3 linked regions of the Homo sapiens genome follow. The protein of the gene in region 1 purifies or fractionates together with the protein of each later gene. This does not show direct contact. Each region holds a gene or a part of one and is shown in the gene's direction. Other genes may lie near its edges.

Region 1 (10,996 bases):
AAAGGCCTTGAGGTGGCTTCTGCAGGAAACAACTAAAAGGCAGATCGAGGGAGGGGAAGGAAGATAAGAAATGAGTTTGAGGGAAGGCACAGTATGGACTAGGGATTGTATTCTAAAGGTGATGGAGGATTTTGAATGAATAAATGCCACCCCTGCTCTTTTTTTTTTTTTTTTTGATGGAGTCTTGCTCTGTCACCCAGGCTGGAGTGCAGTGGCACGATCTCGGCTCACTGCAACCTCCGCCTCCTGGGTTCAAGTGATTCTCCTTCCTCAGCCTCCTGAGTAGCTGGGACTACAGGCACCTGCTACCACGCCCAGCTAATTTTTTTTTTTTTTGTATTTTTAGTAGAGATGGAGTTTCACCATGTTGGCCAGGCTGGTCTCGAACACCTGACCTCAGACGATCTGCCCACCTCATCCTCCCAAAGTGCTGGAATTATAGGCATGAGCTACCGTGTCCGGCCCACTCCTCCTCACTTTAACCCCTCCCGTGGCTTCTGGTTGCTTCTATTCTATTCTATTCTATTCTATTCTATTCTATTCTATTCTATTCTATTCTATTCTATTCTATTCTATTCTTTTGAGACAGTCTTCCTCTGTTGCCCAGGCTGGAGTGCAGTGGTATGATCTCGGCTCACAGCAACCTCTGCCTCCTGGGTTCAAGCGATTTTCCTGGCTCAGCCTCCCGAGTAGCTGGAATTACAGGCACGCACCATCATGTGGAGGGAATTTTTGTACTTTTAGTAGAGATGAGGTTTTACCATGTTGACCAGGCTGGTCATGAACTCCTGACCTCAGATGATCTGCCCGCCTCGGCCTCCCAAGGTGCTGGGATTACAGGCATGAGCCACCACACCTGGCCTTCTGGTTGCATTTAGAATCTGAGGGAGGCTCTACAGGGTCCGGTCCCATCCATCTCACCATGCATCTCTGTGGCCTTGCTCCTCCTCACTTGTTGTAGAGACGAGGTGTCACTGTGTGGCCCAGGCTGGTCTCAAACTCCTAAGCTTAAGCCATCCTCCTGCTCAGCCTCCCAAAACACTGGGATTATAGGCATGAGCCACTGTGCCCAGCCTGGGCCTTAGCCATGCGGGTCCCACTTGCTCCTTGAGCACATCTAGCTTTTTCCATCTCAGGCAGTTTCCACGTCGGCTTCTCCTGCCTGGATGTATCCCCCACCCCCATACCTCCAGCTCCTCTCACGTCTCCCTCCTCCATCTGTTCCTCCAGGTGTCAGCTTACCTGTCATTTCTCAGAGCACCCTCCCCTCACCTCTCAATCAAAAGTGACCTTGTCCTAGTTGTTCCTGAGACTCGTCCACAGCAATGATCACAGCGAAGAGTTGTATTTGTTTCTGGTTTCTTCGCTTCATATCTGTCTCCTTGGTTGACTCTCAGCCCCACGAAGGCAGGGCCTATGCCTGCTTTACCCACTGCTGCATACTCATCGTGTAGCCCTGGCCCCACATCTTTTAAATGCTCAATAAATACTCATTCCTGAGTGGATGCATAAAGCATGCATCAGGAAAGGGCCCATACTGGGCACAGTGGCTCTTGCCTGTAATCCCAGTGCTTAGGAGGCTACGCAGGAGGATGGCTTGGGCTCAGGAGTTTGAGACCAGCCTGGGCAACATAGCAAGACCTCGTCTCTACAAACAATAATAATAGTTTAAAAATTAGCTGGGTGTGGTGATGCGTGCCTGTAGTCCCAGCCACTTGGGAGGCTGAGGTGGGAGGATCACTTGATGGGAGATGGAGGCTGTAGTGAGCCATGATGGCGCCACTGCACTGCAGCCTGGGTGACAGAGCAAGACCCTGTCTCAAAAAAAAAAAGAAAAGAAAAAAGAAAAAAACAAAAAGAGAAAAAGAGCTCAGCCTTGTAGAGGAGAGAGGCTGGAGGCTGCATATCAGTGAGGCAACAGGACAACAGTTGAATAGTTGAGAAGAGAAATGAAAAAGGCCTTCCTTTAGTCTTTAACAGCAGAGGCAGGAAAAGCGGATAGATTCAGGAGCTCCAGAAAGTAGAACCAACTGACTGATAGAACACAGCAAGAGACAGGGACAGCAGATCTACACTGGGGGCTACAACTCAGGTGGTTGAGAAGAACATAGTGCAATTAAATGAAGTAACATGGGGGAAGGATAGCATATTTTGGGCTGTATCTCAACAGCCAAAGCTTGGAATTTGAGATGCTTGAAGGACATCTAGGTGGACATGTCTGGGAGGCAGTTGAAAATACAGTTCTGGCTCTCAGAAGTGAAACAATACTATATGAACAATACTATTTTGGATGATATTTATGAGTTCTTAGCACATGTCCGGTCCCATGTTAAGCCTAGAGGCAGCATCGTACATTGGTTAAGAGCTCAATTACTCTGAACTGAGTCAGATTGTTGGAGTTCACTTGCAAGTTCTCCAACTTGCATGATCTGTAACCCTCAGCAAGGTGCTTAAGCTTACTGTGCCCCATCTGTGCATATCTGGGGTAGTAATGGTACCTACCACGTTGGGCTACTTCCTATCAGGATTACAGTGAATTTAGAATAGTGTGTAGCACTCAATGAGTTTTATCTGTTTTTTGTTTTGTTTTGTGTTTTGAGACAGAGCCTTGCTGTGTCGCCCAGGCTGGAGTGCAGTGGTGCGATCATAGTGCACTGCAGCCTCGACCTCCTGGGCTCCAGTGATCCTCCCACCTCAGCTTCCTGAGTAGCTGGGACTACAGGCATGCACCACCATGCAAGGCTATTTTTTTTATTTTTGTAGAGATGAGGTCTCACTATGTTGTCCAGGCTGATCTCAAACTCCTGGCCTCAAGCAATCCTCCCATCTTGGCCTCCCAAATCTGTCATATTTTTATGATTGTCGTTAATCATCATAACAAGGCTGAGTGGTAGATAGGATTAGCATCCTCATGTTTTGACACGACGAAACTGAGGCTTAGAAAATTTAAGGTTGGGCCCAGTGGCTCACGCCTGTAACACTAGCACTTTAAGAGGCCGAGGCGGGTGGATCATTTGAGGTCAGGAGTTCAAGACCAGCCTGGCCAACGTGGTGAAACCCTGTCTCTACTAAAAATACAGAAATTAGCCAGGCGTGGTGGCACGTGCCTGTAATCCCAGCTACTTGGGAGGCTGAGGCAGGAGAATCGCTTGAGCCTGGCAGATGGAGGTTGCCGTGAGCTGAGGTGGTGCCACTGCACTCCAGTCTGGGCGTCTGGGCGACAGAGTGAGACCCTGTCTCAAAAAAAAAAAAAAAAAAAAAAAAAAGAAAAGAAAAAGAAAATTTAAGTAATTTCCCTGAAGTCACCCAGCTGGTAAACGGTGGAGCTGGGATTTGAATCTGACTCATTCATCCTGCATTGTCAGGTCTAAGTCCTGACTGAGCCACTAGCCAAAGAGAATGAGAGTCCTTCACAAGTAGTGAATGAGACATCACTCAGAAAAAGCCTGTTTGAGGCATGGTGCTGGGGTTAAGAGTAAAAGGCTTCAAGGAAGAACGACAAGAAAAAGGGAGAAAGACACTTTGATGTGTAGCGGGAGAGCCAAGCACTGTTGGGAGAGGAAAAAAGTTTGGGGCGTGTTGTGTGGCTCAGATACTCAGTGGTGCCACCTACCTGTGGGAGGACTTAAATCAGTAACTTTGGGATTTTGATTCCTGGCGGTATCTGGGTTTCTTGCTAAAAGTTGGTTCCATCTGATGCCTTCCCGAGCTATCCTGACCTTGGCTTTAATAATTCATAAATGCCACTAACGATCTACAAGTGAAAAGCATTTTCACATCAAGGTCTAATTGGACCCTCGTGGCCACCCGGAGACACAGGAACGACTAAATACATTCTGCAGATGAGGAAACAAAGGCTCATAGAGGGGAAGGGGTTTACGTTGCCTAAGAACTCTGACACTAGTATAGACAGGCCCGCACTGACTCTGAGATACATCACGTACCAGCTGTGGTCCTTTGGTAAGTTACTTAACCTCCCAAGCCTCAGTTTCCCTTTTCTGTGAAGTGGAGATGATCATGCCTGCCCTTAGATTTTCAGGAGCAAATTGGATTGTGGATACAAAGCTTAGGACATCCGGTATACAGTAAGCAGTCAATAATTGGGAGCCAGCCGTAGAAGTGGTGATAGTAGCTGAGACTCAAGTCAAATCCAGACCACCAATTCCAAACTGTGGGTTCTTGTTGCTGCTGAGAATGGCATGGTCATCTGTCATCAAGGAAACGGCACGAAGGAAAATAGAGCTAGTAATAACTATGGTTAATGAGGACGGTAAATGCTAATCACTGAAGGACTTTCGTCTCCAGCTAAGGAGATGAGTGTGATTCATGGGGAGGATTTAAGGCTATTGTTAAGGTTCCAACAATGAGAAGGGCCCTTGCAGCCATTAATATGGGTTAGAACCCAGACCCTGCCCTTTCCTCCCTGGGTGACCAATCCAGGTCTGAGTGTTAGTTTCTGCATCTATAAAATGGGGGTTAAAACATGTATTACTTGATTTATGAAAGCCAAGTGACATAAAGTGTGTTGAACATCGAGCCTGGAGTACAGTAAGTGTTCAACAAGTGTTTCATTTTTTTCTTTCCATCACACTTTCCTAAGGACAGTACATGACAGTAGAGTTATGCATCAGGAATACAGTCTGAGAAGTGCATTGTTAGGCAATGTCGTCCTTGTGTGAGCATCATAGAGTGTACTCACACGAACCTAGATGGTAGTGCCTGCTACACACCTGGGCTATATGATACAGCCTGTGCTTCCAGGCTACAAACCTGTACATACACACATGTAGAAACACACACACATATCACACACACATATGTAGAAACATATGTGTGTGTGTGGTATATGTGTGTGTATGTGTGTATTTAGAGATAGGGTCTCACTCTGTTACTGAGGCTATAGTACAGTGGCACAATCATAGCTCACTGCAGCCTTGACCTCCTGGGCTCAAGTGATCCTCTTGCCTCAGCCTCCTGAATAGCTGGGACCACAGGCATACACCACCATGCCTGGCTAATTTAAATGAAAATTTTGTAGAGGTGGGGTCTCACTATGTTGTCCAGGCTGGTCTTGAACTTCTGGCTTTAAGCGATCCTTTGTCTTGGTCTCCCAAAATGCTGGGATTACAGGTGTGAGCTACCATGCCTGGTCTATTTTTTAAATTACTGTGGATGGAAAGAAAAATGGCATGTATGACGTCAAATCTAGGAGGTAATGGGAAGAGGAAGGGGACGTGTGGGATGAAAATTTTTGTCTTCTTTTCCACAGAGAAGAGGGCAGCCAAGATGACCCGATGGTCCAGTTACCTGTTGGGATGGACAACCTTCCTTCTCTATTCCTATGAGTCAAGTGGAGGTAAGGACACTCAAAGCAACAGGGAGGATTTAGAAGCTGGAGAAGAATGAATGGGGCAAAGCAAAGATTCCTGGAACTAAGTAGGCAGGAGATGGCTTAGCAAAAATCTCAGAAGAAGCTGGGCGCGGTGGCTGACACCTGTAATCCCAGCACTTTGCAGGGCTGAGGCAGGCAGATCACTTGAGGTCAGGAGTTCCAGAGCAGCCTGCCCAACATGGTGAAACCCCATCTCTACTAAAAATACAAAAATTAGCCAGGCATGGTGGTGAGCGCCTGTAATCCCAGCTACTTGGGAGGCTGAGGCAGGAGAATCGCTTGAACCCAGGAGGTGGAGGTTGCAGTGAGCCGAGATCGTACCACTGAACTCCAGACTGGGAGACAAGAGCAAAACTCCCTCTCAAAAAAAAAAAAAAAAAATCTCAGAAGACCTGGGGTTTGGACCCTGGATCTGCCACTTCTTTTCTTGGTAACTTTGGTCAAGCAACATAAGCTCTCTGAAGTCAATTTCCAGACTGTAAAAGAGAAGTAACGGCATTTATCTCACGGGGTTATTTTGAAGATCAAATAAAATAATGGGCACCAGCATCTTTCATAATGCTCAGCACATGGTGGGGGTAAAAGGCAGGCTATATAATTCCAGTGAACAGAACCTTCAGACCCCAACCTGGACAACCTAATTATATCTTAATATATCTCAGAATCTAAATTAACCACTAAAAGACTGTAAGGTAAGCATGGAAACAGAACAAGAGGAAACCTTGCTTACATGTCATTCACTCAAGCCTTGGTGAGTCATTCTTCACAATTAGAATCCTTTTCTGCCTGATAAATCGTTCTCCTCTGGATAAGGCTCAGGAACCATTTGCATATTGATGCACCTTGATCCCACATTCTTTATTCCAGAGATTCCTAACCTGGGGTCATTGAGTGAGGATTAGAGTCCATGAAAACTGGAATTTACGTTTTAAAAAAAGTGTGTATTTATGAGGGTAGTGAGAATAGCTATTGTAACAAACAAAATCCAAACTATCAGCTGCTTGACACAATAACATTTTTTTTTTCTTGGTTCTGCAAAATCCCAGAAGGGTGCATCTGGTCAGGAAACAATGCTCCACATGGTCATTCAGGGATCCAAGCTTCTTACATCCTGGAGCCCCAACATCCCCTACGGTTTCAGAGTCTGCTGAGGTTTCTTTGCTTTTAGCTTGTAGACAAGTATCAAGAGAGTCTGGAGGACCTTGGAGGAGAGGGTTTTTTGTTTGTTTGTTTTCTTTTGGCCAGGACAGGAAGTGACATTCATCCCTTTCTCCTGCTTCCACTGGCCAAAACTGATATGGCTCTTAACTGCAAGCAAGTCTGGGAGATGCAGTGTAGCAGTGCATTTGGGAGGAAAGTGAAACTGATTTCGGTGAACACACAGCCATCTCAACCATAAGGGCATATGAATATTCTCCTAGAGAGAAGTTCTGGGTTCTCAAAGAACTGACAAATTCCTGAAAGTTTAGGAACTCACAGTTTATTCAGACAAGGAACAATGTACTTGATGGGGTATCCACTTTTCTAGTTATAATCTCATTTTTGTCATGCCTCCCTGAGACCACACCCACATACTTGTGGTGAAACTCAGTATTCCAAGTTCCCTTTGCGTGTATTTACAGATAAATTATTCAGTATACACTTACTGAGTGATCTTTAAGTTCCAGACATTGTGTTATGGACCAGAAGTGCAGAAATAAACAAAACCTAAACCCTCCACTCAGAGAGTTCACAGTAATCGGGAGTTATAGACACATAAATGAATTATTTTTAAAAAATTGGCAACTGCATTCATTTATAGAGATTGACTCTGAGTATTATAAGTGTGAGGAAGAGTATTGACCCAGACTGAGCCAAGTCTTCATGGATGAATAGCAGGGACTAAAGCTGGGAAGAGAGGAAAGGCATTCAGGACAGGGTGAAGGGCAGGACCAAAATCTCAAAGACGAGAAAGAACATGGAATAAGGTCAAGGGAATGTTAATCAGGGAGTGAGAACAGGCAGGTCAGCAGGGTCTGGATTATAGAGGATTGTAACTCAGTTAAGAAGATTAGGCCATCTGCTGGATTACTTTGCAGATGGCTAATAGTATTCATTATGTGCTGATTCTTACTAACGACTCCCAAAGATAACCTTAATTCCACCTACAGGGGCATCTGCCCTCTCCCTCAACACAGTATCCTATATACTCAGTGGTGTTCGTGACTGAGGCAAAGCATTGATAATGACAATAATGACAGTGAAGATGACAATGATAATGATGAGGATGATGATGATATGACGATGATGACAATGATGACGGTAATGATGACAACAATAATAGCGACAATGACAATGATGATGGTGACAGTGATGATGATGACGATGATGATAATGATTATGACAATGATGTGATGAGGAGGAAAATAATGATTACAATAATGATGACAATGATGATGAGAATGACAATAATGGGGTTGATGATGATGATGACAATGATTGATAATGATGATGACAATGACGATGATGATCACCATGATAATGACAATAATGAGGTTGATAATGATGGTGACAATGACTGATGATGATGACAATTATGACGATGATGATGATGATGGTGACAATGATGATGACGATGATAATGATGATGTCAATAATGATGTGATGAGGAGGAGAATAATGATCACGATGACAGTGATGATGATGACAATGACAATAATGAGGTTGATGATAATGACAATGACTGATAATGATGATGACAATGATGATGACAATGACTGATAATGATGACAATGATGATGATGACAATGATGATCATCATCACATGATAATGACAATAATGAGGTGGATTATGATGACAATGATGATGACAACGATGATGATGATCATCATCCTGATGACAATGACAATAATGAGACTGATGATGGTGACAATGACTGATGATGATGATCATGACAATGATGATGAGCATTATGATGATGCCAATGACAATAGCGTGGAGAATGATGATGATGACAGTGATGGTAATGATGATGATGATGACAATGATAATCATAGCTAATATTTATTAAGCAGCAGCCATGCTCCAGGTACTCTTCTAAGCACTTTCCAGATTTAAACTGGTTTAAGTTTCACAAAAATAAATACCAAACAGTTCTGAGAAACAAGGTGAAAAATGCAATGAACTAACAGTTGAGCAAGTTGAGCTCTCATCCCAGGTCTACAAAAAAAAAGCAATCAACTTTAATTAGTCCTTATTGTACGTGGGTTTTCATGTAATGAGGAATTTGGGATAGAATAGCATTTCTTTCTTTTTTCAAAAAAATTTACACATCAAAATTCTGCAGAACACCGTTTTTGTTTTTTGTTTTGTTCTGTTTTGTTTTGTTTTCAGACAGGGTCTCACTCTGTCACCCAGGCTGGAGTACAGTGGTGCAATCATGGCTCACTGTGGCCTCAACTACTCAGGCTCAAAGGGTCTTCCCCTCAGCCTCCCAAGTAGCTGGGATTACAGGGGCACACCACCATGCCCGGCTAATCTTGTTTGTTTGTTTTTTTGTAGAGATGGGGGTCTCACTTTGTTGCTCAGGCGGGTCTTGAAGCGATCCGCCCACCTCAGCCTCCCAAAGTGCTGGGATTACAGGCATGGAGCATTGTGCCTGGCCGAGAACAGCATTTTTTGATATATTTCAGGGACCATTAGTCTCTAGTGCCATTGAATTTTGAAAAAAAAGAAGGACAACTCGATATACTGTATTCATCAATTCTCATTTTCATATTAACTTTTCTGTTGAGTCCTTCATTAAAGAAACCTGTTTAACTTTATTTCACGTGGCATTTTTCCAAACTTATTTTATTGTTTCTGTTGTTTCTTGAGCAAATAATTATTCTAGGTTCTGTAGATACACTGCACAAAAAACAAAGTTCCTGTACTCATTGAGAAGAATAAGGACGTCGAAAGTTGTCCCCTCAATATTTGCCACATCTGGGTACCACCAGTACTATTATTTACTCAACATTTTTCTTTAAATTTGCTTACTTTTCTTCACTTTAAAAAATTCATTTTGGGAGATTGGTTAACATCAGTATTATAATATAAAAAAGCACTACCACTTTCCATAAATAGGAAGTACGACCAAAAAGAAATACTGTACTATGAAAACAAAATCCCATTATTAAATTCTGCTAGACTATCGTCCGAATAAAGCTTTGAGTTTGAGTCCTGCTCCCCACCCCCCTCTCTTTTTTGTTAAAATGGGAGATTATTAAGTATTAGAGATGCAGTAGAGAAATACTACTATTAAATTGAAGCTTTCTCTTTTGCGTAAGCAGAAGGACTAAAAGGACCACTGGAAAATGATTTTTTTCTAGTCTATATTTCAAAATTATTTAATGTGTGTCCTTACATAACCTAATGTGATCTTGTGATCCACCAAAAAGTATTTTGTGTAATGTCATTGGCCCCCCATTTTATGCTCTGAGAAACAGTGGTCTCAAGGAACAACACACCACGGTTGTCTTGGTTGTGTATGAAACTCTTCCCCAGTGCTCCTGGCCCCAACATGAACTGGATATGCTCTGACATGTCATTAGGAAATTGGATGCTAAGCCTAGGTGTGTAGCCTTCAGGCCACCATGAGAACTGTCTCAGTCCATTTGGGTTGCCATAACAAAATACCACAGGCCAGGCATGGTGGCTTACGCCTGTAATCCCAGCACTGTGGGAGGCCAAGGTGGGAGGATCACCTGAGGTTAGGAGTTTGAGACCAGCCTGGCCAACATGGCAAAACCCCGTCTCTACTAAAAATACAAAAATTTGCTAGGTGTGGTGGCGGGCACCTGTAATCCCAGCTACTTTAGAGGCTGAGGCAGGAGAATCTCTTGAACCCAGGAGGTGGAGGTTGCAGTGAGCTGAGACCAGACTACTGCACTCCAGCCTGGGTGACAGAGTAAGACTTCATCTCAAAAAAAAAAAAAGTAAATAAAATAAAATTTAAAAAGTACCATTGACTGCGTAGCTTATAAACAATATAAATTTCTGTCTCCCAGTTCTGGAGGCTGAGAAGTCCAAGGGCAAGTCACCAGCAGTTTCAGTTGCTGGTGAGGGCCTGCCTCCTGGTTCACAGATGGTGCCTTCTTGCTGTATCCTCACATCGTAGAAGGGGCTAGCTAGCTCTCTGGGGTCTCTTATAAGGGTTCTTATCTCAGTCATGAAGGCTCTGCCCTTACGACCTAATCACCTTCCAAAGGCCCCTCGTACCATGACCGTGGGGGTTAGGATTTTAACATATGAATTTTGCGGCGGGGGCAGGGAGGGAACACGGACATTCATATTAAAGCAAGAGCCAAACCAAGACTCATCCTTTGCTAATTCATCGTGATTCTTCCCCACTCCTGTTTTCTCCTTCTGCCCTTCAGGGATGCATGAGGAATGTGTCTTTCCTTTCACCTACAAGGGATCTGTTTACTTCACTTGCACCCATATTCATAGCTTATCCCCTTGGTGTGCCACCAGAGCCGTGTACAACGGCCAGTGGAAGTACTGCCAGAGTGAAGGTGAGTGGTATCACATTGTCCCTGCCAGTGGCCTTTGAATAGGGTGGATCACAAAAGAGAATGTGTGAC
Region 2 (9,192 bases), on another chromosome or scaffold:
ACTTTTGCAGTTTCATCCCTTTCATAGGGAGCATAGAATACTTATACATGTGACCATATTCTGAAACATTGCCCACTATTCAAACCAAGGTAATTATTATTACCTGAAACATGTAACATTGGCCTTTCATTAATGCAATTTCAAATTTAAATTGATAAATACAATGTATTATCCAATGCAGGAAATGTGAATAAGCTCCTCGTTTTGTTTTTTCTAGGTGAAGATGCCAGATGTGGAGCTCTTTGTTAATTTGGGAGACTGGCCTTTGGAAAAAAAGAAATCCAATTCAAACATCCATCCGATCTTTTCCTGGTGTGGCTCCACAGATTCCAAGGATATCGTGATGCCTACGTACGATTTGACTGATTCTGTTCTGGAAACCATGGGCCGGTGAGAGATAAGTCAGGGTTGGCCCAGAGCCTTGGTTTTCTTTCTTTGGTGAGTTCTTTTGCAACAACCTTTGTGATATGATGATTTGGGAGGAAAATCTGTTGCACTTTGTCTTCTAGGGTAAGTCTGGATATGATGTCCGTGCAAGCTAACACGGGTCCTCCCTGGGAAAGCAAAAATTCCACTGCCGTCTGGAGAGGGCGAGACAGCCGCAAAGAGAGACTCGAGCTGGTTAAACTCAGTAGAAAACACCCAGAACTCATAGACGCTGCTTTCACCAACTTTTTCTTCTTTAAACACGATGAAAACCTGTATGGTCCCATTGTGAAACATATTTCATTTTTTGATTTCTTCAAGGTATGACTTAATCAGTAGCTAATCTTTTTTGTTTTTCTAATGTATTTGTACATAGTGCTTTGGGAAGGGAAATTAAGGCCTGCAAATTTCAAGAGGTGGGAGAAGTTAGCACAAAATTGAGCGAATATTGAGACATGGGGGTGCTGGGGACTGTTTTGGCAACCAGGGTCTGCCCTCACTGCCCAGTCTTGATATTAAATGCGCATCAAGGGAGTTTGGAGCCTGGATAGAGCTATAATTTTTTTCCAGCTAACCCTTGAGATAAGCACATGTCACCTCCAAATATGTTTTTATTAATACTTACATGTAAGTCATTTTACAAATACTTTTTCCCAGAGCCATGTTATCACAACAGAATAAGGAAGATATAAACTACTTGTTTCTTACCAGGCCTTCTGGTGGGGAATGACGTGAAACTCATCCAAATGTTCTGTCTGGGAATTAGGGTTTGCTTTCTCTGTCTAGAATGTGGATTCCGCATGGTTCCTGGGGAGTAGTCCTTTTTCTAACAACTCCTTTTATAAGGCAGTGGGCACCACCCTGCTCTTTAGACCATGGAGTTGTTTCTGAAGTCCCCCATGGTAGAGAGAGAGGTGGGAAAAAGGTCATCATCTGTCCTCTGTATGTGGGAAGACAAGTGATTAACGAGTTCTGTCTGCCCTGTAGATGACCAAATTTTCTTTTGATGGGTTTTGTTGAGGCAGGTTGACCTAAATGTTAACCTTGTTCAATGTTAAAGTTGAATTGTCAGTATTTTTCTATATGCATATCCCAAAGATTTTTGAAAGAAATGATTATAACCAAAGTGAAAGGATACTAGCCAACCTTCCTCAGTGGAGGGGTGCTCCATCCTGCCTTGGCTTTATTCCTGCCTGTTGAATTTTCTGCAACTAAAGATGATAGATTACCACAGTTCTATGAATATTTTTATTCATAGGTGTTCTTGCTCCAGAGCTTGCTAATTTCTTTAAGACATATGTCTGGGTGTTTAAAAAATACGGTTAGCCAGGCGTGATGGCTCACGCCTGTAATCCTAGCACTTTGGGAGGCTGAGGCAGGCAGATCACCTGAGTTCCAGGGTTCGAGACCAGCCTGGCCAACATGGTGAAACCGCATCTCTACTAAAAATACAAAAATTAGCTGGGCGTGGTGGTGCGTGCCTCTAATGCCAGCGACTGGGGATGCTGAGGCACAAGAATCACTTGATCCCAGGAGGTGGAAGTTGCAGTGAGCTGAGATCACGCCACTACACTCCAGCCTGAGTGACAGAGCAAGACTCTGTCTCAAAATAAATACATAAATAATACGGTTAACATGGCTCAGAATATGCCATCATTAGGGGCACATTTGCAATCAATAAAGTAGCAGGAGAATTACAAAAAGTCACAAATGAATCCATCCTTCCTTATGTTGCAGCCTTAGGACAGCAGTATGATTGTATTCGCTGCTTCAACACTAGATTTGTATCCTTTGTAAAATTGAGAAGCACATCAAAATGAGCATTTAGCTCTAGATCAACCTGTTGTTTAATAACACTTACTAAACGGCAAAGGCAGAGCGTGGAAGCTGACCAAATTGTGTCTGAGGATTGCAAAGGTTTATGTGTGGGATGGGAAGGAGAATAGAGTGGAGAAAAGGAGATTTAATAGAGGTTCTTAGACTTTACCATTGTTTTGCAGCATAAGTATCAAATAAATATCGATGGCACTGTAGCAGCTTATCGCCTGCCATATTTGCTAGTTGGTGACAGTGTTGTGCTGAAGCAGGATTCCATCTACTATGAACATTTTTACAATGAGCTGCAGCCCTGGAAACACTACATTCCAGTTAAGAGCAACCTGAGCGATCTGCTAGAAAAACTTAAATGGGCGAAAGATCACGATGAAGAGGTAAGGTTAGTCCCCTTGAAGGCTTATTTCCACTTGTTTCCCAATATCATGGGTCCTTTTGAAATGTATTGTACCTGGAGAGCATCCAGGATGTTCACGTAATAGACTTTGGCCTGTAAATGGGAAGCTGCCTGCCCATAGATGGCACGGCAGTTCCCCTAGGCTGAACACAGCGGGCACTGCATCTTACATTAACTCTCCACTCTGCATGTGAAACAAAAAGCTAGGCTGGGTGCGGTGGCTCGTGCCTGTAATCCCAGCACTTTGGAAGGCTGAGGCAGGCAGATCACCTGAGGTCAGGAGTTCAAGACCAGCCTGGCTAACATGGTCAAACCCCATCTCTACTAAAAATACAAAAATAAGCTGGCGTGGTGATGGGTGCCTGTAATCCCAGCTACTGGGGAGGCTGAGGCAGGAGAATCACTTGAACCTGGGAGGCGGAGGTTGCAGTGAGCCGAGACCACACCATTGCACTCCAGCCTGGGCAACAAGAGCAAAACTCCGTCTCAAACAACAACAACAAACAACAACAACAACAACAAAAAGCTAAACTGTGGCCTTGATTACACTTTCTCTTTCAAGTAGCGTTGCTCTGAGCCACAAGCATTGCCTCCGCTAGCAATGTGAAAATTGTAAGATGGCCAGTCTGGCAGAAGTCACTAACAGGCTCCAGGTTAAAATGAGGGATTGATTCAGAAGTAGATGCAGCCATAAATACAGAAATAAAGAGGGATGGAATGCAATAAACTTTAAGCTAATTGTCTCCTGAAATTTGTGAAGGCAGCTGGCTAAGCTTCATCTTGCGTTTACAAAGTCATCAGTTTGCTTGGTGTACAACCTTGTCTCTCCAGGAGAGGCTTAGTTCTAGAAGGTCCAATATGACTTTTCAAACTTTTAAGTCTTAGAAACCTCCCTCTGATTTAAACAAACATACTCTGTTAAATGTTCTGTTTTACCATGAGACTACCCCCAAAGATATTATTTCCCACAGTTGCCCCAATGTATACATACTCTGAAGAGCAGTTTGCAGATGCCTGCATGGGAAAAATGGATTCTATTACAGGATTTTGTCGTTGTTCTTCCTGTAGGCCAAAAAGATAGCAAAAGCAGGACAAGAATTTGCAAGAAATAATCTCATGGGCGATGACATATTCTGTTATTATTTCAAACTTTTCCAGGTCAGTATTTTCCAAGAAAATCATCACGTAACTTATAAGTAGACATGTTAAGAACAAATAATATTTTACTTAACAATTTCTAAACATATGTTACTATAGGGAGATATATATACTTCTGTGGATGAAAATCAGAGACAAATATTAAGTAATCATAAAAAAATAGTTGAAAACCAAAGATTAGCTAATGGAAAATGTTACAATATTAAGCGAAAACTATTAATATTAGAACTATGTGATGTCTGACTAAGAAATTGGCCTCTGATCCTACAAAGTTACAGTGCATGGATTTGTATGTTCTCTTTGTGTTACATTGCTGCTGCCTTACCATTTCTTTGTCTAAACAGTGCCAGGTGTGTTTGGGCCTCTTGTCTTGACTCTGTATGAGCCATGACTTCCCTTGGAAATTATTTCCATGGACCTAAGCATTTAGAGATTGTAATCAAGCATATCCGACGATTTAAAGGACTCTTTTAAAAATGTGGTAGTAGGCCGGGTGCGGTGGCTCACACCTGTAATCCCAGCACTTTGGGAGGCTGAGGCAGACAGATCACCTGAGGTGAGGAGTTTGATACCAGCCTGGCCAACATGGTGAAACCCCGTCTCTACTAAAAATACAAAAATTAGCCGGGTGTGGTGGTGCACACCTATAATCCCAGCTATTCGGGAGGCTGAGGCAGGAGAATCACTTGAACCCGGGAGGTGGAAGTTACAGTGAGCCGAGATCGTACCCCTGCACTCCAGCCTGGGTGACAAGAGTGAGATTCTGTCTCAAAAAAATAAACAAACAAAAAAAAAAAAACAAAATCAGGTAGTAAACAAGTTCTTGGCTAATAACAGTACTAGATCTAGAGTAAGAGTTTTATCTCACAGTTGCAGATACTGAGCCCCATATCTGAGGCTCTGCTACAGATCAAAGTTGGTGTATTTCTGGCCTGTACTGGCTCCTCCCGATTTTGTAACCTTCCCTTGATAGAGGGAAGCAGAGGACAAACCGTGTAAAATGAATAAACTGGGGGGATTTACCATGTGAATTTCTAAGGATCCATGGGGCAGTGTTCATTCATTTAGCATAGGTACTTAGCACAGTGCTTCACTCAGAGTAAGCACATGATAAATGAAGATGATGATGGAGGCTTGTGCAAGCCATGATAAGGAAAGCAGAATAGTCTCTGTCTTCACATTCTCAGTCTAGGGAAGATTGTGTGCAAAATTATTTTTACTGTGAGGCAGAAGACGGTTAAAAAAAAAAGTCATGGAAATTTAGGATAGCATAAAGAGGTGTCTGTTAGGAATAGGCAGCCAGTGTTCAAAGGATGGCCTCCTCTCAGATGCTCTACTGTTGATGTTCAGAACTGGTATATATGACGGACTATGCAGATCACAGTTTGACACACATGAGTTAAATGAATCATAGTCTTCATATATTCTAGCCTCTCTCATTGGGTGGATATAAAGTGTTTTATAAGGAATGCTTTTATATTGTTGCTTAAACAGGAATATGCCAATTTACAAGTGAGTGAGCCCCAAATCCGAGAGGGCATGAAAAGGGTAGAACCACAGACTGAGGACGACCTCTTCCCTTGTACTTGCCATAGGAAAAAGGTAACCAGAACTGAGCTTATGGCCGGTGTCAGAGTAAAAACTAACATTGATCCAAACTTGCTTTTATTCCTATAGTCATTCAATCAGGCAGCAAATATTTGAGTTCCTCTCGAGGTCTCCAAGCAATTCAGTCTGCCAGAGAGATAGGTATAAAAGATAGCAGTGCTCAAGAAAGGATGCTACAATGCAGTTAATTGAGAAGACATGGTAGCTCCCTGGCAAAGTGGGGGGAAGTCTTTTATAATGTGAGAATCCAGCTCACACCCTATTTGAATGGATGCTTACAGTCTGAAAAATATTTTCATGTGTATCATCTGATGCCCTCATCTCCTCATGAGATAAGTTTGGCAAAGTTCATCATCCCAGTTTAGAGAAGGAAAAATATGTAACCACGATTATTAATGTTTTCCAATTCTTCATTTGAAAGTCATCTCAGTTGATACCACTACATAAGGATCTCATTGATAAAAATGAAAGTCAGATTCACATCTGGACTTTTAAGGTAGAAAGGACCTTAGAAGTCATCCAGTAAATGCCTTCATTTTATGGTTAACAAAACTGAGCCCAAAAAGGAATTGTGCTCAAAATCATCTAGCTGGATTATAGCAAAGCAAAAACCAATCTCTCATCATCAGATTGTGATTGTGTGTGCTTGTATATAAAGCTATAGTGTGGCAGGGGACTGTTGCTTTGATTATGATTTTTGTTTGTTTGAAGGAATGTAAATTGCATAAACTAGAGTGTGTGTGTGTGTGTGTGTGTGTGTGTGTGTGTGTGTGTAACATATGCTGACTTAACATTTTAGGCAACATAATTAGGTTTCTGAATGGACAAGTTCAAAATTGTGGTATTATAACCAAAGACAAGAAGGCAGATTTGGCAATTATTATGTCTACCTCTCAAGGAGGTGTAAAAGGAATTAAGGTGAGGCTGGCCCCAGTGATGTGACAGAACCAGCTTATATGAGCTCACTGATAAATATTCAGGAATTTTGCATACTAGTTAAATTTTTGGTAGCTTGGAATCATCCTGATAGGAGTATTTACACCATGACAATCAGCACATGCTACAAATCAGAATTTTGGCTGTTTTATTTTTGTCTTTGTTTTTTATAGAACTCATTAACCACTAACCAACTGGCCCTCAGAGGTGGTTCGTCATCATTGTGAACTCTGTCAGTGCTCCAAGGCCATAAAAATCAGTTAAAACCAATGATAAAACAAGAATTGCCAAATCGAAAGGTTCCCCCTCACCAATCCGTGATTTGGTATCAGAACACTTCTCACTTTGGCTCTAAGTGAGACTGGCAGCTTCCTTGCTCCACTCCTGCTCAGTTATTTATCTTCATCTACGTGATTGAGAGGAGGTACCCAGCCAGTTTCTTCCACTGAGTAGTAGAAGTTAGGGGCCAGAATGATAGCTTCGTTTATTTTTTGCTCATTGTCTATCCTAGTCTTTCACCACTACTGTTCATAACATGAGGCCTTTACAGTAGTACAGCCCATGGATGTTTGGGTTCCTTATCAGTAGGCTATGAAACACAATGTGATTTTACCCTTAGCTGACTCTGGGCCTCTGGAAATAGTCCCAAGCCCTAAAAGCCTCTAGCAGCAGCTTGGCTCCCTCTCATCTTTACAGGAAAATAATTAACGAATGTAAGTCTTCTTCACTTGTGTAAGACTTCTTGATAGCTCTAAATATTTTGCTTCTTAATTGCAGACCAAAGATGAACTCTGATATGCAAAATAACTTCTATTAGAATAATGGTGCTCTGAAGACTCTTCTTAACTAAAAAGAAGAATTTTTTTAAGTATTAATTCCATGGACAATATAAAATCTGTGTGATTGTTTGCAGTATGAAGACACATTTCTACTTATGCAGTATTCTCATGACTGTACTTTAAAGTACATTTTTAGAATTTTATAATAAAACCACCTTTATTTTAAAGGACTACGTTGTGCTAATTATTAGCCGTGTTTGGAACAGAGAGCAGTAAAAACAGAGAGAATCTGGGTCCTTAATGCACAGCAGCCCAGACCACCTGCCCAGACTGGTTTTAAATGACAAAGCAATGAACCCCTGTCTCCTTTTAAGCCCATATTATTGTGGGTATTCAGCCAAACTTAATTCTAGCTAATACTTCGTACAAGGCCAGTCATTAGATGGCCTCTACCTGCATCTTTAGTCAAATCTCTCAGCACTTTCTAGTATCAATACTGTCCTCTGGAAGAACGAGTCCTCTCCCAGTTCTGTCAATGCCTGTGTCCTTACCTTCCTGGCTCTTGCCTTTCCCTTGTCCTGGAATGTCTTGGCCCTCTTTTCTTCAACCGGCTTACACATCCTTCAGCACATATTTTATCCTTACTAGATTTTAAGTGCCATGACCTCAGAGACCAGGCCTTTCTTCTGGGTAGTCCTAACGTCTAATAGAGTGCCAGCAACTAGAAAGACTGAATAAATATCTAATGGGTGATATGGTTTTGATGTTTGTCCCTTCCAAATCTTATGTTGAAATGTAATTCTGAGTGGTGGAGGTGGGGCCCGGTGGGAGATGTTTGTATCTTAGGGGTGGATCCCTCATGAATGGCCTGGCACCATCCTTGCAGTGACAAGTGAGTTCTCACTGTGAGTTCACATGATCTGGTGGTTTTAAAAGGTGTGGCACCTCCCCCTCTCTCTGTGTTGCTCCCTCTCTTGCCACCTGATACCCTGGCTCCACTTTGCCTTCCACCATGATTGGAAGCTTCCTGAAGCCCTCTCCAGAAGCAGATGCTGGCACCACACTTCCTATACAGCCTGCAGAACGATGAACCAAAATAAATCTCTTTTCTTTAGAAATTACCCAGCCTCAGGTATTTCTTTATAGCAACACAAAAATGGCATTAACACAATGAGTAAATGAATGAATGAAAATCACTTTGAAATGCAGTTAAAAGAATTTAAAAAGAACTAAAAATCTGAACACTGAACCATATATCATATTCTACAAATTCCTTTACCTAATATTCTCTCTTCCATTCATCTTCCAGTCAAATAATTTTTTCTAAATTATTTTGAATTTTGAAATAGACATACAGAAGAATATAAAACATATATCTGCAATTTAAACATATATCTGCAATTTAATTATAAGAAAACATCCATGTAATCACTGACAAAGATTCTTTGCTTGACCACCTGTATTAGTCCATTCTCTCGCTGCTAATAAAGACATACCTGAGACTGGGTAATTTATAAAGAAAAGAGGTTTAATTGACTCACAGTTCCACAGGGCTCAGGAGACCTCAGGAAACTTGCAATCATGGCAGAAGCGGAAGAAAACAAGTCTTTTCTCACATGGCAGCAAGGAGAAAGCACCAAGCAAAGGGAAAAAAGCCTCTTATAAAACCATCAGATCTCGTGAGAGCTCACTCACTATCATAAGAACAGCATGAAGGTAACTGTCCCCATAAATCAATTACCTCCCACCAGGTCTCTCCCACAACATGTGGGGATTATGGGAACTACAATTCAAGATGAGATTTGGGTGGGGACACAGCCAAACCATATCATTCCACCCCGGCCCCTCCCAAATCTCACATCTCACATTTCAAAACACAATCATGCCTTCCCAACAGTTCCCCAAAGTCTTATTTCATCATTAACCCAAAAGTCCAAGTCCACAGTTTCATCTGAGACAAGGCAAGTCTCTTCCACCTATGAGCCTGTAAAATCAAACACAAGTTAGTTACTTCCTAGATACAATGGAGGTACAGGCATTGGGTAAATATACCTG
Region 3 (10,996 bases), on another chromosome or scaffold:
GCTCATCTTTAATGGTATACTAGCTTCCTTAGCAAGCTGTATAGAGCAGTCAGATGATACCTGGAATTTTACATTTCAAAACAAAATTGTGCATTCTAAAAATTTACCTTTTCTTCTGTTAAAAGTACCGATTTAAATCAGGGTTTAGTGAATGGATTTGCCTCCCGGTACTTTTGAATTTATTGCTACATTTGAAACTTGCGGGCGGTGAATGCAAACTAAGAAAATGATTACAAACTTAAAATGAATAATTTTGATAACCAATTAATTAAAAAACTTGTTTAAAGGTTTTATCTTCTAATGTTTTTACAGGGTCCTTTTTTTGGGTGGAGACAAATAGGAAATTTCAGGCCCCTCCCCTTCCCCAAAGTAAATCTTTCAAAACCTTACTAGTAGGTGAAAACAAGGTCACAATAAAAATTATGTAGTAGCCTTTGCTGTGCATTGCAGTCACAGATGTTATTAAGGCACAAATTTAACAGCATGTGAAAGTCATTCCAGGCACTTCAACAAAAGTATCCAAGAACTGTTTATCTTCCAGTTAAGTAAGTGTACGCAAGGGTCAAATTTGGCCTGGTATCTGTGGATGAAGATCATGATGCAATTCTTTTGCCAGTGCTTTGCATTTTTTCTCACTCTCTTTCTTGGTCTTCCTCTTAAAAATGTTCATATTATGAATATTACTATAGACAGTGGAATGGAAAGATTGCTGAACTAAGGGGTTAGAAGAAATGGATTTAAATAACACCTGCCTTCCCCCCAGTAGTTGTTCAACCTTGTGCAAGCCACTTTTATCTCTTAACTCATTTGGTTACTTAATTTGTAAATTGTGGATGATGAGACTGCCAATGCTAACTCATGGAATTACTGAGAGGCATAAATGAGATATTTATTATATTTCCTCATTAATATTCTTATATTAATATTCCCATGTTAATATTTCAAACTAATGTGAGAAAGTGCTTTGAAACCTAATTGTGCAATACAAATGTAGTGAGTTATTACTTTTATGGTTCTTGTTTTGAATCTCTGGATTTCATCCTTGACTATTGCATTTATTTCTTTTACTACTCCTTGAGTACTTGCTACTTAATATGGTTATTACTTAATATGCATTTGATTTGCTTCACACTGATTGTATCTTCTGATGATTGTAAATTCAGTATTTAGTATGGTGACTTGATTGTTTACAGTTATGTTGACTTTTATTGATGTTTGGTAAATTTCACAGCTTTGTCTCTGGCTAGCATATTTTGTTTTAATATATTTGGATTTGAGGTAAATGTTTCCTGTAAAATGTTTTACCTACTAAATCATGGACTTGTTTTTATTAGGCCTTCACAGAGCTTCAAGCCAAAGTTATTGACACTCAACAGAAGGTGAAGCTCGCAGACATACAGATTGAACAGCTAAACAGAACGAAAAAGCATGCACATCTTACAGATACAGAGATCATGACTTTGGTAGATGAGACTAACATGTATGAAGGTGTAGGAAGAATGTAAGTAAAATGTGTCCTTAATGGAGTTATTTTGGGAGTGCTTTTGTCCGAGTTAAATAGAATTTGTTCATCTTAAAACTTGGGTTAGGCCAGGAGTGGTGGCTCATGCCTGTAATCCTGGCACTTTGGGAGGTCGAGGCGAGTGGATCACTTGAGGGCAGCCTGTTGGCCAGTATGGTGGAACCCTGTATCTACCACAAATACAAAGATTAGCTGAGCATGGTGGCACTTGCCTGTAGTCTTGGCTACTTGGGAGGCTGAGGCAGGAGAGTCGCTTGAACCCCGGAGGTGGAGGTTGCAGTGAGCCGAAATCATGCCACTGCACTCCAGCCTGGGCAGCAGAGCTAGACTCTGTCTCAAAACAAAAGAAACTTTGGTTTAAAGTAAGTATCTTTTTCTTTTTGAGACGGAGTTTTCGCTATATCGCCCAGGCTGGAGTGCAATGGCCCGATCTTGGCTCACTGCAATCTCCGTCTCCTGGGTTCAAGCGATTCCCCTGCTTCAGCCTCCTGAGTGACTGGGATTACGGGCGCTTGCCACCACGCCCTGCTAATTTTTGTGTTTTTAGTAGAGACGGGGTTTTACCATATTTGCCAGGATGGTCTGGAACTCCTGACCTCCTGATCCGCCCACCTCAGCCTCCCAAAGTGCTGGATTACAGATATGAGTCACCACACCCGGCAGGTTAAAGTATCTTAGAAATAACTTTAAAGATTATCTAATTAAATGCTTTCTTTTTTTAAAATGAGGAGCTGAACTTCAGGTAGATTAATTAAAGTGTTTAAGTTTAGACTTTAAAGTACATTTTTTTTTTTTTTTTGAGACAGAGTCTCGCTCTGTTGCCAGGCTAGAGTGCAGTGGTGTGATTCTGGCTCACTGCAACCTCCGCCTCTTGGGTTCAAACAATTCTGCCTCAGCCTCCTGAGTAGCTGGGACTACAGGCGCATGCTACCATGCCCGGCTAATTTTTGTATTTTTAGTAGAAATGGGGTTTTACCGTGTTGGCCAGGATGGTCTCAATCTCTCCTCTTGATCCGCCCGCCTTGGCCTCCCACAGTGCTGGGATTACAGGCGTGAGCCACCGCCCCTGGCCTCAAAGTACATTTCTTAAGTGCTTACTTTCCTGTTCTGTCTATGATTAGGTACTTAAGTGTAAGTTCAGTAATAAAAATGATTTGTCATGGAAAATGTTTATAGCAATATTATATTGTATGTGAAGAAGATTTATTTAAGTAGGTGCAGTTTTAACCTCCTCTTCCCTGCTTAATTTATTAGGAGTGATACAAATCATAAATCTTTCAGATGTCTGATCAGTGTTGTAAAATAAAAATAAAAATTCAATTGTCATTTAAATACACTCATTCTGGCCAGGCATAGTGGCTCATGCCTGTAATCTCAGCACTGCAGGAGGCCAAGGTGGGTGGATCCCCTGAGGTTAGGGGTTTGAGACCAGCCTGGCCAACATGGTGAAACCCCATCTCTACTAAAAATACAAAAATTAGCGAGGCATGGTGGCGCACACCTGTAATCCCAGTTACGAGACTGAGGCAGGAGAACTGCTCGAACCCAGGAGGTGGAGGTTGCAGTGAGCCGAGATTGCGCCATTACACTCCAGCCTGGGCAACAAGAGTGAAACTCTGCCTCAAAAAAAAAAAAAGTAAAAAATACACTCATTCTAAGTGTCATGCATTGTTCTAATAGGAGGACAACTCACATGTGAGAAATCTAGTAAATTATTTTACTTTTGTTTGTTCTAATTAATACATTATTAACTTCGTACATTTCACTTTTTTTTCTTTTAAAAGCATATTGCCCTTGTGAGAGAGAATAGGTCTGCTTCATATTCTGTAAGCAGAAAAAAAGGAATGGAAAAGCCCTTAAGTACAGGTCACATTCCATTACAGTGAGCTAAAAGGAGAAGACTGATTTTTTTTTTTTTTAAGTTGGGGGGAGGTACAGGAGGAGGGTTTTTCTGGAATTTGGTCTTTGAGTATTACTTAGTAAGTAGACCATTACTTCAGATTTGGAGATCTTTTAGTTAGAATGGAATTTGACCTCAGTCTCGGGATGACTTGTTTTGTGATTGATTTGAAGAAAGAATAACATGTGTAAAATTTAATAATGACTTTGGAATGACATCATGAGAAGTAGACCTGCTCATCACTGACTAATCCATATCTTTATGGTTCAGAATTAGATTATGTTAAATTGTTCATCTGATTTGCTTTCTCAGAATGAATAATGTAGCACAAGTAAATTTTATGTCCAAGCTCATATATTTCATTTTAGTTTAAGAGGATAAGGATCCCAATTTGAGAGTTTGTTACTGGGACACAAAAGAATTGGAACAAAGTAGAACCCTTGAATATGTGTCTGTGTAGTATGAAATGCATTGTTGGCATTCACTACAGGATAATTTTATCCTTAATGTGAATATCCTTAGGTCTTAAAACAGTAATGCCAGCTTTATTAACATGTTGTACTTGGATTTCACATCACTGCGCTAGCCTTTGTTTGCAATAGCTAAAGAATTCCTTTTTCAAAATAGAAAAAACGTTTTACTCCCTTTGGGCTTTTGAGCTACAGTGAAGTTTTAATTTTTAATTAGAATAGTTTCATTTATTAAACGTTCTGCAGAAGTGTTAGGAGAGTTGTTTTTTGTACATATTTTCCAAAGTGCTACAGATAAGTTGTTTTCCATACCAAGAATTTTGGAGTTTAAAGGCTAGGATATGAATTAATAAATAGTAGAATGGTATTATTTCCAGAAGGTTTATTTCATATAAATTACGTTTCTTAAAAGAAGTGTGGAGTTTTAAATGTTTGGATAAAGTTGAGCTTCTACATGATTTCAGACTTCTGTTTTAAATTTGACTTTAGTGCTGTCTGCATCTCACCGGGAGTATGAGTTTGACCCTGTATTGTAGGGGCATGTAAGGTGAATAGCGTTTGTTGTTTGGCTAGCGTATTAGTGCCCTGAGAGGAAGAAAAGACTTGCTGAGTATTAGTCTGGTCATGAGGATGTTCTCTTTCTTGATGCTAAACCTGAGATATCTATTTCTGAATTTATAGTCGAGTAATTTTGGGTATCATTGTGATTCACTTCTTTAATTCTAGTCTTTACCTTACTTTGTTTTTTCTTTTCCATTTTGAGTGTTATTTGGGAATTCTGACTAGAATATTACTTTTTCCCAAATTTTCATTTTAAAACCGTAATAAAATGGTTATAATAAAATCCAAAACTTCATTTTTCTTTTAGAACATGCAGTAGATTTTCCCATTGCTGAAATTCAGGTCTCATTGCTTCTTGCCTGGACTTTTATGATAGCATCTTAACTGTTCTTTCTTCCTGCCTTCATTCTGTCTGTCCAAATCCATTCTTCACATATCTTTCAGAATTAATCACATCAATATTCTTCCTAAAGTCCTTTGTTCATCCTCTGTTGTCCACAGGATAAAATCTAAACTTGTTGGCCTTGCATTCATGGTTATTCATAATCTGTTCTTAATTTACCCTTTGCCTCAAGTCCCACCACTTTCTTTTTCCAGGGTTAGGATAGCATGTATATTTCATCTCATGGACCTACCTCCTTCTACTAGTTTGTGTTATATGTTGAGAAGAATTTTGAGATGTCAAATGGGTTTTAAACATGCTTTAATTGATTAGTGATGTCTGTTACACAGTGAGGGTAGAAGAGTAGTAGCACATGTACTAGAAATTGTTATCCTACCCTTGCCACATAGGTTTCCTCACACATGTTATGTTTTTGTGCTTTTTTGCTTTTGCTCAGTCTTTGGCGAATAACATTGTCCTTGGCTGGCAATATTCCTCTTTTCCTTGTGAAATTCTTATCCTTCAAGACATAGCTCTACTCTTACTTTGCCTCTGAAGATTTTTTCAGCCCCTGGGGCAGACTCATTCACTCTTTCCTTGGCGATAGTAGGGCTTTTGTTCCTACAGCTAGTAAAGCACATTGAGTGTGTAGGTGTGTTTAAATGGGTCGGTCTTCCCAGCCAGATTGTCAGCTCTGGGAGACCATGTATATATATTATCTTTGTTTCCTCATTCTCAGTATAATGTCTGGCACAAAATAGCTATTAAATGTGTATTGATTTGAATTGAATCTGATTCTTTTTTCTGGCCTAAAATAACTTTTTTCTTTTGGTTTCTTAGAAAAAAAAGTATTTTAGAAAGTGTTAGAGACTTAAGAATGAGTTTATTATCCTATTTTAATATATGATCCATGTAAGATGAAATTATAAAAGTAACATATATTTTGACTAAGGTCAAAAAAATTATATCTGACCAAAATCACGTCCTCTGATCTGACAGGATTAATTCTTCATTAAATATATTGAGAAGGTTGTCTAATTCTAAATACCAGCCAGTTGAAGAGACACTCAGAACTAAAAATATAGAAAACCCAAACCTTAAAGATTATGCTTGAGGGTAGTATAATCCTTAGAGAATAAAGGCTATTTTATGCATAATAATATCAATGTATTTTTATCCATTTTACCTTCCTCATCTTCACACAGAATGTAAGTCAGATTTTTTTTTTTTAGGGTATGTATTTAGTTAAACAAATCATTGCAGACCCAGATATCTTTCATTTCATAAGTATGGACACATTTTGTAGTGTTAAATACCTCTTATACATGGCTATTTTTGGTTTAAAACAAGGAAAGTCAAGCTACAGGATAAGAGATGATGAATTGCTATATACTGTAAGCTCTGAGTATTTGTTGCTCAAAGCTATATTCCATCCAGTCTTTTGGCGTGTTGCCAGCACATTTTAGTTCTCTTACTTCATCTTCTTTAGAGAGGCTGTTATGTAGCCTGATACTACTACCACCAATTTCTAGTTTTGCTACTTAAGCTGTTTGTGAGCTGACCTCACCATACTGCTTTGAGAACTATGATGAAAGTTACAACTGGGGAATGATCTGTCTGAGTATTTGGAAGTGTTTGTCTTTGCATCTTTCTAGCATGCAAGGAGGGAATAGACAAATCTTAAATGTTATGTGAATATTTCTTGTATATATTTTTTCATGGATAAAAATGTTTATAATTGCTTGTGGGGGTTTTCTTCCTTTTCTACTTTGCATAGTAGAGGATAGGAGTATTTTTAAAATAAGAATTATATTTGAAAGTGCATATAAATGACATTTAACCATACTAGTGTTTGAAAGGACCATCATTAGAATAAATGTCAAACTTACTTTTATGAACAATAAGTATGATCCTAACCCTGATTTGATGTCAGATCTATTATTTGAACACCCTTTTTGCTTGAGCATTACATAAATAACATTTCTTTTTTCCAAAAGAGACAAATTAACTTTTTTTTTAATATGAGGAACTTGAGTAGATTAGCCTTTAAAAAGAACAATTAGTGCCTTTTTAAAACTTGAACCTAACTAAAAATAACTTTGTACCATATTTAAACTAATTTAGAGGTATGCTACCATTCTGTGGGTATTTTTTACATTTAAGGAACTAAGAATGAACAATGGTATAAATCTGCCAACTAGATAAGTGTCTAGCAATGCAAAAATTGCTGTTTGGGAGCGGTGTTACTATTTCTACTTGTTGAAGTAATTTAATGGTTGATCTCTAACGGTTGAAAGATCCAGAAGTGTAAAACTTAAGATAAATGTGGCATAAGTAGAAAGTGAAACAGTAGGTGTATTCCTGATAGGTAACAATTAAAAAAAATCTAAATAGTTAAGCAGTTTTTCAACTGTTTAGGTTGTAGAAATCTGAACTCTTTATGACAGCTTGGCTGAACTGCCCTTTGTTTAGAATGTTATGTTGGTTTTGTTGTGATTGTATTTCTTAGTTTGGATGTTGACCTATAATTTGAATCGTGGCATTTAGTAAAGGTGGGATGAAATATATGCAGCTTCCCTTAGTTATGTTAAATGTTAATAGAAAGGGGTATGCTCATACTGCTTCAAGTTTTGCAGCCCTTTTACAATTTCATGTAGCTATAGAGTTGGTCTTCCAGTCAATTTCAGGTAATTTTAAAACTGAAGAAATGGTCATACTATATTTTATTGCTAAGAGATTAGGAAATGAAATTTAAAAAATCTTAGTATAGTAAATATTATTGATATTGTTGATAAATACTGTTGATATTACAGTGAAAATAGTTTATATTGTTGCTCTCAGCAGAATCAAATTTGGATATTTTATTTAGTGCATACTACAGGGGAAAAAATAATGTGTGAGATTACTTTTGGTGTGAGAGTCACATTGCAAATGCCAATTTATAAATTCATTTTATACCCTCTTTAAAGGTATTAATCTGTATTTTAGAGAAAGTGAAGCAAAGATAGTTGTCAAAAGTAAGATGAGATTACTTTTTAGATTTTACTTGAAGAAAGAGAAGTTCTTGGTGTTCAGCTGCTTTTACTAATAGAACATGACCCACCCTTCTTGTGTTTTTATACAGAGCCATTTAAAGTCATGGCTTTCATTGCCCAGAGTTCTAAGGGAAAACAACAACATCTTTTCCTGTTGTGCAGGGAAAAATGACTTAAGTTTTGTTGACGCTGAATATGTATATAACCCCAGATGGGCACACATTCCTCTTGCACAGATTTAGTACTCTGGGGAGAGGAGATTTTTAAGTCATATTCTTAATTTCCTTAAGTTGTCAGTGATTTAAAAACTTGATGTTCATTATAACTCTGCTCTACTGCTGTCTAGAATGACATCACTGTTTTTGTGCCAGAGGGAGTTAACAAACATTTGCGTAAGAATTACATAGTCCTGTTTCTTCTGCAGACGAGTACTTTTTAATAATTATTTCCCTGCTTCCCCTCCCATATGCCCCAGTCTAAAGATTCTCACCAAAACACAGGAAATTAATTTTGAAAATGTTATGCTAATTAGATGTCTATTGTTAAAAAAGGGAAAAGTCTGTTATCTTGGAGAGTACAAACATACTAAAATAAACTTGCTATGGGGTTACTTATTTTAGGCTTTGGACCTGTTTTAAAAACATAAATGTAATTGATTCATTTAGCTACTTGGTGGACTTTGCTTGCTTCTGCATTTCCTGACATCAAAAGACCTGGCCTTTTTTTTTTTTTTTAACTGACAAAGGATTAAACAAAATCAGCCTTTGTTGTATGAAAAGTAGCAGTCATTTGCGGGATACTACAGTGTTTTCCAGTCAATGATAAGCAACTGAGCGAAAGGTGAAAAGTACCATTTGCTTGCTGTTCCTATGTAAAAATATTAAGGTAGCAGCAGTCTTGAACTGTTAACTTTGTCACTGAGGAATTGTGTGCTGTAACTGACTTAATTAGCTGAATTTCTCTGAAAACAGTCAATTTTAAGCCATACCAAGAATTTTCTGATTTTAGCTGCCACTTATCTCATAGTGCAAAGTTAGGAATAACTTACTATCTAATCTGAGAGAGAGGACTGAAATGTTCATGTCAAGGAACATAATCTGCTTAATGAAATATCCAAGAAGGAGCTCAGAAAAATATTGACTTAGAAGGTGAGTCAGTTCATATATATGAACACGCACTTGGTAATGCCTTTTGTCATTCTTTTTTATTTATAATATCAGAAATTGCTGTTAACTGCAAATATACTTTACTCTGATGAAATACTTAGGATTACTAGTGTGTTACATGTACCATTAGTGCCCATGCTTTTGTGAAGAGTGTATCCTTATTTCATTTATATAATTTAAGTTCAAATGGACCTGTCTGGGAGAATGTTACTTCATTGTCCTGGCCAGGAACTCTTATTACCAACTCTTGTTTTGCAGTAGATCAGTTGTCTTGAAATGAACTACATTACTTGGAAGCTACTATGCTTTTCACTTTGAAGAGGACTTGAAGTATTCTGATACCAAAATTGGTACAGCAACAGGAGTCTAGTATCAAAAATGTATCTTTAAATAGATAAGAGCATGACTGCCCTAAGCCCAACCTTTACACTGGCTCAGAGTAAAAAGATTTGGATCACAATATGCATCCTGTATGTGTGTGTCTGACTGAGACTTTGGCATTTGTGCCAAAGTATATTTATATTTCTCTATGACATTCTGCTTTTGTACAAGGAGTACTCTGCTCTCTGTCTGTCTTCTAATACTCATTGGATAGTAATTTTAAAATATTTTATCTATTGCTATATTTTAACTTACTAGTAAAATAAAGATCATATCTTGGAAAAAGTTATGGAATAACTCACTGCCTATACGTGGAATGTTTGGGGTTTGATGAAGCCAGAGTAAAAGTGGTAAACATCAGAGGTGCTTACTTACCAGAATACTTAGAATACCAAATAGTAACCCGAAATAAACATCATGTTTAAAATAGATTAACATACTACTGCTTCCATTTCAGGAGTAATAGTTTTGATTTAAAAATAGGCAGTAATTTTTAATTAGTAAAAATTGAACATAGCAGTGTGTGTTACTCTACTAGAACAAGGAACGCTTGTATGGGATTGGGTTCTGGAAGGGACAGTGATTCTCCAGTAATTCCAGTGAGTTCTCAGTCCTCATCTTATTTGACCTATCAGTACCATTTGGTCCTGTTGACCTTTCTTCCTTGAAGCACGTTCTTACCTTGGCTTGCAGGACACCACTTCTTGATATTCCTCCCACCTCACTGTCCATTCCTTTTCAGCTTCCTTTACTGTCTTCATTTCTTTTGCATTTGTAAATATTAAATTTACTTTGTCCTTAGCCCTTGGATTTTTTTTTTCTTTTTTTTTGTCTATATGTACTCAGTCTCTTAATAATCTCATCCAGGAGTATCTCTAAATGCATTTTTATATACTGACAACTCCCAGATTTTTTATCTTTAACTTAGACCCCTTCTCTGAACTCCAGACTTGTATATTCAGCTGCCTACTTTACATCTTCATGTGATGGTCTAATAGGCATCTCAGAATTAGCTTGGCCAAGATAAAATTTTTGCTGTTTATAAACAAACCATCTCCTCTCTCAGTATTACTAAGTGGCTTTTCCACACTTCAAATTCTTCCAAATCTTGGAGTCACCCTTGGCCCCTCTCTTTCAATCTTATATTCAGCTCATTAGCAAATACTGTTGACTCTATCTTTAAATTTTGTTCAGAATCTGAAGACTTCTACTTACCACCACCCTGGTCTAATTTACCATTGGTTTATGGCAGTTGCTTCCTAACTAGGCTCCTTGCTTCTGTCCTTAACCCTTTATAGTCTGTTTTAAACTGATCAGCCAGAGTAATCCTTTGAAAATGTAAGTCAAGATCACTGTAGTCAAATGGCCTCCCATTTCATCAGTGAAAAAGACAAAGTCTTTTGCACTTGCCAGTTTCTCTGCCTGAAGCCTTCTTCCAGGTGTCTCCATGGCTTACCCTTTCTCTTCCTACAGGTTGTTTCTAAAGAGGCAATGAGGCCTTTCATGACCATCCTATTTAAAAGTATACACCTAACCAGCACCCACACTTATTTGCCCCTTGTTGGCTTTATTTTTCTTC

Evidence for each region.
Region 2: the proteins of ELSPBP1 (region 1) and POGLUT2 purify together in Homo sapiens (co-immunoprecipitation; 2 studies listed by BioGRID and IntAct, with this or other methods). This does not show direct contact.
Region 3: the proteins of ELSPBP1 (region 1) and PFDN1 purify together in Homo sapiens (co-immunoprecipitation; 2 studies listed by BioGRID and IntAct, with this or other methods). This does not show direct contact.

What each region holds. Positions count from the first base shown.
Region 1 is NC_000019.10:48,003,382-48,014,377, forward strand, and holds part of ELSPBP1 (epididymal sperm-binding protein 1 precursor), read left to right. Parts: intron 1-3,700; exon of another isoform or gene 3,701-3,842; coding exon of another isoform or gene 3,843-3,960; intron 3,961-5,269; coding exon of another isoform or gene 5,270-5,286; coding exon 5,287-5,356; intron 5,357-10,789; coding exon 10,790-10,927; intron 10,928-10,996.
Region 2 is NC_000013.11:102,782,456-102,791,647, reverse strand, and holds the end of POGLUT2 (protein O-glucosyltransferase 2 isoform 1 precursor), read left to right. Parts: intron 1-217; coding exon 218-390; intron 391-509; coding exon 510-747; intron 748-2,426; coding exon 2,427-2,636; intron 2,637-3,724; coding exon 3,725-3,814; intron 3,815-5,308; coding exon 5,309-5,416; intron 5,417-7,135; coding exon 7,136-7,153; 3' UTR 7,154-7,367; downstream 7,368-9,192. UniProt on the Homo sapiens protein: Protein glucosyltransferase that catalyzes the transfer of glucose from UDP-glucose to a serine residue within the consensus sequence peptide C-X-N-T-X-G-S-F-X-C. Can also catalyze the transfer of xylose from UDP-xylose but less efficiently.
Region 3 is NC_000005.10:140,290,921-140,301,916, reverse strand, and holds part of PFDN1 (prefoldin subunit 1), read left to right. Parts: intron 1-1,334; coding exon 1,335-1,501; intron 1,502-10,996. UniProt on the Homo sapiens protein: Binds specifically to cytosolic chaperonin (c-CPN) and transfers target proteins to it. Binds to nascent polypeptide chain and promotes folding in an environment in which there are many competing pathways for nonnative proteins.